Homo sapiens: one gene and its partner. The protein of the gene in region 1 interacts with the protein of each later gene in a pairwise test. Each region holds a gene or a part of one and is shown on either strand. Other genes may lie near its edges.

Region 1 (3,992 bases):
TCTCAGCTTCCATTTCCTTAAAATAGGCATTCTGTTGTATCTTTCCAGGGTATTGGGAGGATCCAGTTGGATGCTCTGTGAAACTTCTTTGAAAACAGTAAAATAGTATAAGAAGGAATCATGGGTTTGCTATTACTCTTAGGGAGGGACTGGGATCCAGGACAATCTGGAATGGGGTTTCAGATGTGGAAAAAATTACCATTCTGCTCCCCTGCCCATGTTTGTATTAAATGAAACTGTTCATGAGAGCATCAGAATAAGGGGTTGATATCCAGAATATATAAAGAACTCCTACAACTCAACAATGCAAAAACAACCCAATTTACAAATGGGCAAGGAAGTTGAATGGACATTTCACCAAAGAAGATATACAAATGGCCAATGTGCACATGAAAACATACTCAATATCCACTGATCATTAGGGAAATGCAAATCCAAACTGCAGTAAGATACTACCTCCTACCTATTAGAATGGCATGATTTAAACACACAGAGAAAATAACAGGCGTTGGCCAGGATGTGGAGAAATGAGAACCTTTGTGCATTGCTGGTGGGAATATAAAATGGTACGGCCCCTGTGAAAAACTGTGGCAGTTCATCAGAATTTAAACAGGGAGTTCCCGTATGATCCAACAGCTCCACTCCTGGGTTTCTGTGCAAAAGAACTGAAAGCAGAGACCCTAAGAGATATGTGTACACCCATGTTCATAGCAGCATTATTCACGATAGCCAGAAGGTAAAAACAACACAAATAGGCATTGACAGATGACTAGACAAACAAAATGTGGTATCTGCATACAACAGAATATTATTCAGCCTTCAAAAGAAAGGAAATTCTGACACATGCTGCATCATTAATGAACCTTGAAGGATATTATGCTAAGTGAAATAAGCCAGTTGCAAAAGGACAAATGCTGTATGATTCCACTTAGATGAGGTGCCTAGAGTAGTCAGATTCATAGAGACAGAAAGTAGAATGTGGGTTGCCAGGGCCTGGTGGGAGGAGGGAAGGGGGATAGGGTAGTCGAATTCACAGAGTTGGAAAGTAGAATGTGGGTTGCCAGGGCCTGGAGGGAAGAGGGAAGGGGGAGTTGCTGTTTAATGGCTGCAGAGTTTTGGCCGGGGATGATGGGGTCATTCTGAAGATGGATGGTGGTGATGGTTGTACAACAGTGTCAGTGTACTTAATGCTACTCAACTGTACACTTAAAATGGCTAAAATAATATGTATATTTTGCCACAGTTTAAAAAATAAAAATATTTTTAAATGGTTGAAATGGTAGATCTTATGTACAGATGCTCCTCAGCTTCACATGGGGTTATGTCTTAATAAACTGTAAATCAGATATACCGTAAGTAAAAAATGCATTGATTACACCTAACGTCCCTAACATTGTAGCTCAGCCTCACCCACCTCAAACGTGCTCAGAACACTAACACTAGCCTACAGTTGTGCAAAATCATTTAACACAAAGCCTATTTTATAAGGAAGTGTTGAATATCTCATGTAATTTCTTGAATACTGTACTGAAAGAAACAATTCAAAGTGCAGCTTCTTCTGAATGTGTATCACTTTGCATCATCATAAAGTCGAAGTGTCATAAATTGAATGTAAGTCAGGGTCCATCTGTATATTTTACCACAATTAAAAAAAAAATCAAAGACAGCTTTTAAGGGGGATAGAAGCCTCAAACTGGCAGCCTGTGGCCCATTTAGAAGATTAGAGCAGCAATTCAGTCGTGTTGGCTTGGGGCCTGGGACTTTATGGGATCCAGGGGCTTATAAGCACCCCCAAGCCTTTCTTAGGACCTTAGTACCGACTGGTGTAGCTACTACCTGTTCCTCTGGGTTACTGCCCGGGTGTCCAGTAGAACCCCCCAGGGGGTGGAGCCAGGGTAATGGCCCCCAGCCTCTGCCCAGATAGTAATTTTCCATTCTAGTCCTGCCCTAGCATCTCAGCTGGGTTTGGACCTTCTTTCTTGGTTTGGGGGGAGCATAGCAGGTGTCCTGGGCCTATGCCAGCAGCAGCTGATCTACCCGCCCCAGAAGAGCCGAACACCATGAGGAAATTTCCACAGCTTTCTCGCCCCCTGCCCTCCGTCTTCTCAGGAGTGACTTATCCTCTGTTCTCTGTAGGTTTTCTTTTCCTCTGCCTGCAGCATTGCCGTGGATGCCACCCTGAGAAAGAAAGCTGAAAAGTTCCAAGCTCACCTGACCAAGAAGTTCCGGTGGGACTTTGCTGCGGAACCTGAGGACTGTGCCCCGGTGGTGGTGGAGCTCCCTGAGGGCATCGAGATGGGCTAACTCGGGGAGCGCTCTCAGCTGCGAGGGGCCCCTTCCCACAGGGCTGCAGTCCTGGCCTCTCCATTTACTTCTTCCCATCCTGGGACCTGCCAGGGCAGCAATCTCTCCAGGTCCTGCAAAGATGGAGCCAGAATTCCCTTTTTCACTGATAAATATATTTCTTCATTGCCAAAGAGGCTGTACCCATCCTGAAGGCACATTTGTGGGTTCCCCATCAGCCAGGCCTTGGTGCTAACCTGGCTGAATTTCACACAGGCTCTTACACACACACGCTCCTAGGAGACATCTGCCTACACGGCAACCATATTTCCTCTGAATGAGAAGGAATTGAACCAAAAGTCCAAGAAAGAACTGATTGCTTGTTCCATAGGAGCTTAGGAAACAAGAAACCCTGGATTGCCCAGGGGGTCTGAGAAGTTGGTTGGTGACTTTTTTTGCGGTTAAATGAAGGGTGATGGGGAGATCAGCCCGAATTGCCGCCTGCCTCTTGCTAAATAGGAGCAGAGGACTTGGCCTGCAGCTCCTTGGGAGCCCTTGATTGGGAAGAGAGTTTCAAGGGAGGCAGCTGGATTCAATCTAGCAGGTGGTCAGCTTCAGCTTTCTCCATCGAAATCCCATTCTCCTGTCCAGAGGCCCAGTGGGTCATCTCCCAAGGTGGGTGTGGACCCTGGCCTCAGAGGCCTTGCTGGTGCTGTCACCTCCCACCTGTTCCATTCCGAGGCCTCACCCAGAAGTGGGACCCTCCCCTTCCTCACCAGAGCCACCGTGACTGTTTCTGATGACCTGGAGAGTCAACAACAACCAGAAAGGTTTCTGCCCAGAGCAGGCTTCTTAAGGCCTTTACGAAGTTTTGTGCCTTCCAAGTGCTGAAGAAGACCTGGTCAGCCTAAATCTTCCCAGTCCCGCTGTGGAGCTGTCAGTCACCGGAGTAATGAGCTCCTGGTTCCTCGGGAGTCCTTCGTGCTGTGTGGCAGGGTTCCTCTCTAGACAAGTACACAGGCCCTGCCACCCTGACATCAAACTGTTGTACTATGATCACAGTCCCTGTGCCATCCTTTTCCAAGACTGGGGCTCACACCATGTTTTTGAATGAGAATCCCTGCTGGTTGAGACTTTTGCTTCCACTTGTTTCCTTGGAGATGTTTTTCCAAGAGCATAATGTACATTAAAGTCTTCGAGTTGAGACAATCCCCTTGTGTGTGTGTGTCTCTTGCAGTTAATCCGCCTGATCTCCAGAGCAGCCAGGCTACTGTCCATAGACACACACCTCCCTCCAGTGTATGGGAGACTTGCCCAACCTCTGGAGTCTGGAAGAGGCAGGCAGCCAGTGTTCCTCCTGTTCCTCTTGAGGCCCCTGAGACAGGCACACAAGGAAGAAGGGATGAGGCCCCATGTCTCAATAATAACCCAAGAATCACCTGATATGAATTGGCTCCTCTTTTTCTCCCAAAGCCCACTCATCAGAACTAGCTGGGGAGCTTGTGAAAACTGTATCTTTAAAGGAGTGAAGTCCTGATACATGCTACAACACGGATGAACCTTGAGAATGTGCTAAGTCAAAGACACAAGGACCACCTATTATGTGATTCCATTCACGTGGCATGTCCACTAGAAACAAATCCACAAAGAGGGAGAGTCAATTAGCGGTTACCAGAGAATAAGACAGTATGGAATGGCAGTGACTGCTG
Region 2 (7,036 bases), on another chromosome or scaffold:
CAGCACGCTCAGTGTTTACTAGAACTGAGGCTTAAAGTGCCATCTGGTGCCAAAAAGGAAGCAATGACGTAGTGGGAAGAAAGGAAAAAGAAAGAATATCAACATGCAAATTGCAAATTACAAAGAATCTCTAGGCAAACATATCTAATAACCAAAAAAAAGCAAAGCAGAGAAGACTGGAACAAATAACTAATCCTTCAATACAAAGATGTACATTTACATCCACAAGACACAGTAGCAAATGGAACCATGACCTCTTCAAATGGACAAAACAAGGAATCAAGTGAACCCTTATCACATATCACATATCACAATACTGTGATATGTGAACTCTCTGACCAAGAATTCAAAATAGCAGTTTTAAGAAAACTGAGTGATCTCCAAGACAGCCCAGGCAATTCAGAAATTTATCAGATAAATTTAACAGAGATCGAAATAATTAAAAAAATTATGGGCACAGTGGCTCATACCTGTAATCCCACTACTTTGGGAGGCCAAGCTGGGAGGATGGCTTGAGGCCAGGAGTTTGAGACCAGTCTGGGCAACATAGTAAGACTCTGTCTCTACAGAAAACGAAAAAAACTTAGTTGGTGTCTTGGCATACGCTTATAGACCCAGCTACTTTGGAGGCTGAGGTGGGAAGATCACTTGAGCCCTGGAAGTCGAGGCTGCAGTGAGCCATGATTGTGCCACTGTACTCCAGAATGGGTGGCAGAGTCAGACTCTGTCTCTAAAAGAAGAACAAAATAAAATAAAACAGAAATCTGGGAACTCAGCCGGGCACAGTGGCTCACGCCTGTAATCCCAGCACTTTGGGAGACTGAGGAGGGCTGATCACGAGGTCAGGAGATCGAGACCATCCTGGCTAACATGGTGAAACCCCGTCTCTACTAAAAATACAAAAAATTAGCTGGGCGTGGTGGCATGTGCCTATAGTCCCAGCTACTCGGGAGGCTGAGGCAGGAGAATCGCTTGAACCCAGGAGGCAGAGGTTGCAGTGAGCCGAGATCATGCCACTGCATTCCAGCCTGCGCAATGGAGCGAGACTCCATCTAAAAAAAAAAAAAAAAAAGAAATCTGGGAACTCTGAGAAATATATTTGCTGAACTAAAAAATTCATTAGAGGCTCTCAACAGCAGAAGGGATCAGCAAAAGAAAGAATCAGTGAGCTTAAAGATAGACTGTTTGAAAATGCACAATCAGAGGAGAAAGAAAAGGTATGAAGGTCTACAAGATATAAAATATTATCTCAAAAGATTAAATCTAAGAATTGGTACTCAGGAGGGAGTAGAGCAAAAGCAAGGAGTAGAAAGCTTATTCAAAAAATTAATAGCAGTAGCTGGGGATGGTGGCTGACACTTGTAATCCCAGCACTCTGGGAGGCGGAGGTGGGTGGATCACCTGAGGTCAGCAGTTCGAGACCAGCCTGGCCAACATGGTGAAACCCTGTCTCTACTAAAAATGTAATCAAATTAGCTGGGCGTGGTGGTGCATGCCTGTAATCCAAGCTACTCGGGAGGCTGAGGCAGGAGAATCGCTTGTACCCAGGAGGCGGAGGTTGCAGTGAGCTGAGATCACACCATTGCACTACAGCCTGGGCAACAAGAGCAAAACTTGGTCTCAAAAATAATAATTATAATAATAGCAGAAAATGTTCCAAAACTTGAGAAGGAGATATTTATGGCCAGAGAACACCAAACACATTTGACTCAAATAAAACCACCCCCAGGCATATAACAATAAAACAGTAAAACTGTCCAAAGGTTATGGACAAAGAGAGGATCTTGAAAGGAGCAAGATAAATGAAGCAAATAGCATATAAAGTAGCTACAGTTCATCTGGCAACAGATTTCTCAGTGGAAAGCATACAGATCAGGAGGGAGTGGAATGAAAAAAAAAAATGCCAGGCTGGGTGTGGTGGTTTATCCTGTAATCCCAGCACTTTGGGAGGCGGAAGCGGGTGGATCACTTGAGGCAGGGAGTTTGAGACAAGCCTGGCCAACACGGTGAAACCCCTCTGTACTAAAAATATTAAAAAATTAGCTGAGCATGGTGGCATTTGCCTATAATCCCAGTTTTTTGGGAGGCTGAGGCACGAGAATTGTTTGGACCTGGGAGGCACAGGTTGCAGTGAGCTGAGATTGCACCACTGCATTCCAGCCTGGGGGACAGAGTGAGACTCTGTCTCAGAAATAAAGGGCTAGGTGTGGTGGCTCATGCCTGTAATCCTAGCACTTTGGGAGGCAGGGGAGGGTGGATCACCTGAGGTCAGGAGTTCAAGGCCAGCCTGGCCAACATGGTGAAACTCTGTCTCTATTAAAAATACAAAAATTAGCTGGGCGTGTTGGCGCGTGCCTGTAATCCCAGCTACTGGGGAGGCTGAGGCAGGAGAATTGCTTGAACCAAGGAGGTGGAGGTTGCAGTGAGCCAAGATCACACCACTTCACTCCAGCCTGAGTGACAGAGTGAGACTCTGTCTCAAAAAAAGAAGAAAAAAATAAAGAGAGAAAAGAAAGAACTGGGCCAGGCATGGTGGCTCATGCCTGTAATCCTAGCACTTTGGGAGGCTGAGGCAGGTGGATCACCTGTGGTCAGGAGTTCGAGACCAGCCTGGCCAACATGGTGAAACCCCATCTCTACTAAAAATATAAAAAATTAGCCGGAAGTCGTGGCGGACACCTGTAATCCAAGCTTACTCAGCAGCCTGAGGCAGGAGAATCACTTGAACCAGGGAGGTGGAGGTTGCAGTGAGCCAAGATTGCGCCACTGCACTTCAGCCTGGGCAACAAGGGCGAAACTCTGTTTCAAAAAAAAAAAAAAAAGAAAAGAAAGAACCTTGTTATAACTGTAAGTTTTTTTTTTGTGATTTCATGATAACCATAATGCAAAAACCTATAATAGATTCACCAAAATCAAAAAGCAATGGATTAAAACATACTACCAGAGAAAATCACTTAATCACGAAGGAAGACAGTAAGGAAGGGAAGAGTTACAAAACAACCAGAAAAAAAGCAGCAAAATGCCAGTAGTTGTATTAGTCTGCTCTTGCACTGCTATAAGGAAATACCCGAGACTGGATAATTTATAAAGAAAGAAGTTTAATTGGCTCATAATTCCACAGGCTGTATAGGAAGCATGGCTGGGGAGGTCTCAGGAAACTTTTTTTTTTTTTTTGAGAGGGAGTCTTGCTTGTCACCCAGGCTGGAGTGCAGTGGCACGATCTTGGCTCACTGCAACCTCCACCACCCAGGTTCACGCAATTCTCCTGTCTCAGTCTCCCAAGTAGCTGGGACTACAGGCACACACCACCACTCCTGGCTAATTTTTGTATTTTTAGTAGAGGTGGGGTTTCACCATATCGGTCAGGCTGGTCTTGAACTCCTGACCTCAGGTGATCCACCCGCCTTGACCTCCCAAAGTGCTGGGATTACAGGCTTGAGCCAGTGCACCTGGCCAGGAAACTTTTAATGATGGCAGAAGGCAAAGGGGAAGCAGGCACATCTTACATGGCCAGAGCAAGAGGAAGAGAGAGAGGGGAGGTGCCACATACTTTTAAACAATCAAATCTTGTGAGTACTCACTATCACAAGAGCAGCACGAGGGGGAAGTCTGCCCCCAAGATCTAGTCACCTCCCACCAGGTCCCACCTCCAACATTGGAGATTACAATTTGACATGAGATTGGGGCAGGGACACAGACCCAAGCCACATCAGTAGCAAATCCTTACTTATCAGTACTAACACAATGTAAATGGACTCACTTCTCCAATTTAAAGGCAGACAGTGGCTGAATGGATCAACAAACAAGACTCAACTATATGCTGCCTAGAAGAAACTTGCTTCACTTGTAAGGACACATGGACTGAACATGAATGGGAAAAGATATTTCATGCAGCTGGAAACCAGTATAGGAATAGCTGTCCTTAAAACAGACTACAATCAAGGACTGTAAAAAGGAAACAAAGAAGTTTACTATATAAAGGGGTCAATTCAGCAAGAGGAATTTATATAACAGTATAAATATCTATGCAGCCAACATTGGAACTCCCAGGTATATAAACATTAATAGATCCAAAGGGGCTGGGCGCAGTGGCTCACGCCTGTAATCCCAACACTTCAGGAGGCCGAGGTTGGTGGATCACAACGTCAGGAGATTGAGACCAGCCTGGCCAACATGGTGAAACCCCATCTCCACAAAAATACCAAAATTAGCTGGGCATGATGGCGGGTGCCTGTAATCTAGCTACTCAGGAGGCTGAGGTGGGAGAATCACTTGAAGCTGGGAGGTGAAGGTTGCAGTGAGCCAAGATCGTGCTATTGCACTGCAGCCTGGGTGACAGAGTGAGACTCCATCTCAAAAAAAAAAAAAAAAAAAAAAAAAAATCTAAAGGGAGAGATACAATACAGTATTAGTATTGCAATACAATAATAGTAGGGGACTTCAACACTCCACTCTCAGTAATGGACAGATCATCCAGATAGAAAACCATAAAGAAACATCAGAGTTAAACTACACAGTAGACCAAAGAAGCCTAACTGACATTTACAGAACATTTCACCCAAATAATCTAATGATACACCTCAAGGAACTAGAAAAGCAAGGACAGACCAAATCCAACATTAATAGAAGGAAAGAGGCTGGGCATGGTGGCTCACACCTGTAATCCCAGCACTTTGGGAGGCTAAAGCAGGCAGATCACGAGGTCAGGAGTTTGAGACCAGCCTGACCAACCTGGTGAAACCCTGTCTCTACTAAAAATACAAAAATGAGCCAAGTGTGGTGGCGTACACCTTTAATCCCAGCTACTCAGGAGGCTGAGGCAGGAGAATCGCTTGAACCCGGGAGGCAGAGGTTGCAGTGAGCCGAGATCACACCATTGCACTCCAGCCTGGGTGACAGAGCGAGACTCCATCTCAAAAAAAAAATTAATTTATTAAATAAAATAAAAGGAAAGAAATAATAAAGATCAAGGCAGGAATGAATGAAATTGAGACCCCAAAAAACCCAAACAAACAAGCCAGAAGATTAATGAAATTAAAAGTTGATAATTTTAAAAGATACAATTGACAAACCTCTTAGAAAAAAAGAGAGAAGGCCCAAATAAATTAGAAATAGAAAAGAAGGCATAACAACTGAGACCACAGAAATACAAGGAATCAGGCTAGGCACGGTGGCTCATGCCTGTAATCCCAGCACTTTAGGAGGCCGAGGTGGACAGATTACCTGAGGTCAGGAGTTCAAGATGAAACTGACCAACATAGTGAAACCCTGTCTCTACTAAAAAATACAAAATTAGCCAGGTGTGGTGGTGCATTCCTGTAATCCCAGCTACTTGGGAGGCTGAGGCAGGAGAATCACTTGAACCCGGGGGGCAGAGGTTGTGGTGAGCTGAGATCACGCCATTGCACTCCAGCCTGGACAACAAGAGTGAAACCCCATCTCAAAAAAAAAAAAAAAAAGAAATAGAATCGTCTGGGTGCGGTGGCTCACGCCTGAAATCCCAGCACTTTGGGAGGCCGAGGCGGGCAGATCACAAGGTCAGAAGATCGAGACCATCCTGGCTAACACAATGAAACCCCATCTCTACTAAAAATACAAAAAAATTAGCCAGGCATGGTGGCGGGCGCCTGTAGTCCCAGCTACTCGGGAGGCTGAGGCAGGAGAATGGCGTGAACCCAGGAGACGGAGCTTGCAGTGAGCCGAGATCGCGCCACTGCACTCCAGCCTGGGCGACAGAGCGAGACTCCATCTCAAAAAAAAAAAAAAAGTTACTTTCAAAAAGCAGAAGGAAAGAGGATACATTTCTTCCTTACACTGTTACATACTAAAATGTTTCTTCTGCCTGGTGCAGTGGCTTGTGCCTGTAATCCCAGCTACCAGGGAGGCTGAGGCAGGAGGATCACTTGAGGCTAAGAGTTCAAGGCTGCAGTGAGCTGTGTTCACAAGTTTTAATTATTCTTAAAACAACTGTTTAAAATTTCTTTAAACTTGCTGTTTTGTTCCTGTGTCTTGTCTTTGGTTGGTATTTCAGTAAGTTTTTGGTATTCTCAAATTTTATCTAAATGGATAAACTATTAACATAGAACATAAACCCCAATTCTCCATTTCATTTTTCTCTTAGGCATGAATCATACAAAACTCAATATAGAGCAATGTTTGTAATGAATTGTTCTATTAACAAAGAGGAGGTTCTAAGATATAAAGCCTCAGAGAACAGGAAGAAAAGGCGGGTCCATAAGAAGATGAGGTCTAACCGGGAAGATGCTGCCGAGAAGGCAGAGACAGATGTGGAAGAAATCTATCACCCAGTCATGTGCACTGAATGTTCCACTGAAGTGGCAGTCTACGACAAGGATGAAGTCTTTCATTTTTTCAATGTTTTAGCAAGCCATTCCTAAACAGCCCAACTGGCATTTAATTACCCAATACTGTATATAAGGCAAATATGGACAGTTACTTTCCTCTTGCCTGTTCATATCCTTCAGTGACATTGAGGAAGCAGTGTTTCTCTTTTTAAAGGAGAATAGTTGTCAACCTTCATTCATCTCTTACATCTCTCACCCTCTCCTTTTTTTTTTCTTTGATTTTCCCCCTTATTGATGGGACTGATATTCATTCTGTTTTTGATGAACATTTGGAAACTGTCGGGCTTTTTATTAAAGCTCTGTAGAATTAAAATGTTCTGGAATTATAAGCAATCTTTGTTTCTGAGTGTTATTTTTATTTTGGATATAGCTTTGATGTAATTAAACTGGAAACTCTTTCCTGAATTGTCTGTATTGTTTTTGCTAAGATGTATCTTTATTCACCCCCACCCCACATGATGAATGACAGTATTTAGTAACTGTTACAATTGCGTGGAATAGGCTGGTAGCTTTGGCTCCTGCCTGTAATCCCAGCACTTTGGGAGGTCAAGGCGGGTGGATCAGGAGTTCAGGAGTTTAGGAGTTTGAGACCAGCCTGACCAACATGGTGAAACGCTGTCTGTCTCTACTAAAAATAGAAAAATCAACTGGGCGTGGTGGTGTGCACCTGT

What was found. Proteins that work in one complex are often made in the same cells at the same time.
Region 2: the proteins of AAR2 (region 1) and EAPP interact in binary tests that used the Homo sapiens proteins (3 or more experiments, as listed by UniProt).

Annotation. Positions count from the first base shown.
Region 1 is NC_000020.11:36,253,442-36,257,433, forward strand, and holds the end of AAR2 (protein AAR2 homolog), read left to right. Parts: intron 1-2,136; coding exon 2,137-2,304; 3' UTR 2,305-3,492; downstream 3,493-3,992. UniProt on the Homo sapiens protein: Component of the U5 snRNP complex that is required for spliceosome assembly and for pre-mRNA splicing.
Region 2 is NC_000014.9:34,515,672-34,522,707, reverse strand, and holds the end of EAPP (E2F-associated phosphoprotein), read left to right. Parts: intron 1-6,121; coding exon 6,122-6,398; 3' UTR 6,399-6,770; downstream 6,771-7,036. UniProt on the Homo sapiens protein: May play an important role in the fine-tuning of both major E2F1 activities, the regulation of the cell-cycle and the induction of apoptosis. Promotes S-phase entry, and inhibits p14(ARP) expression.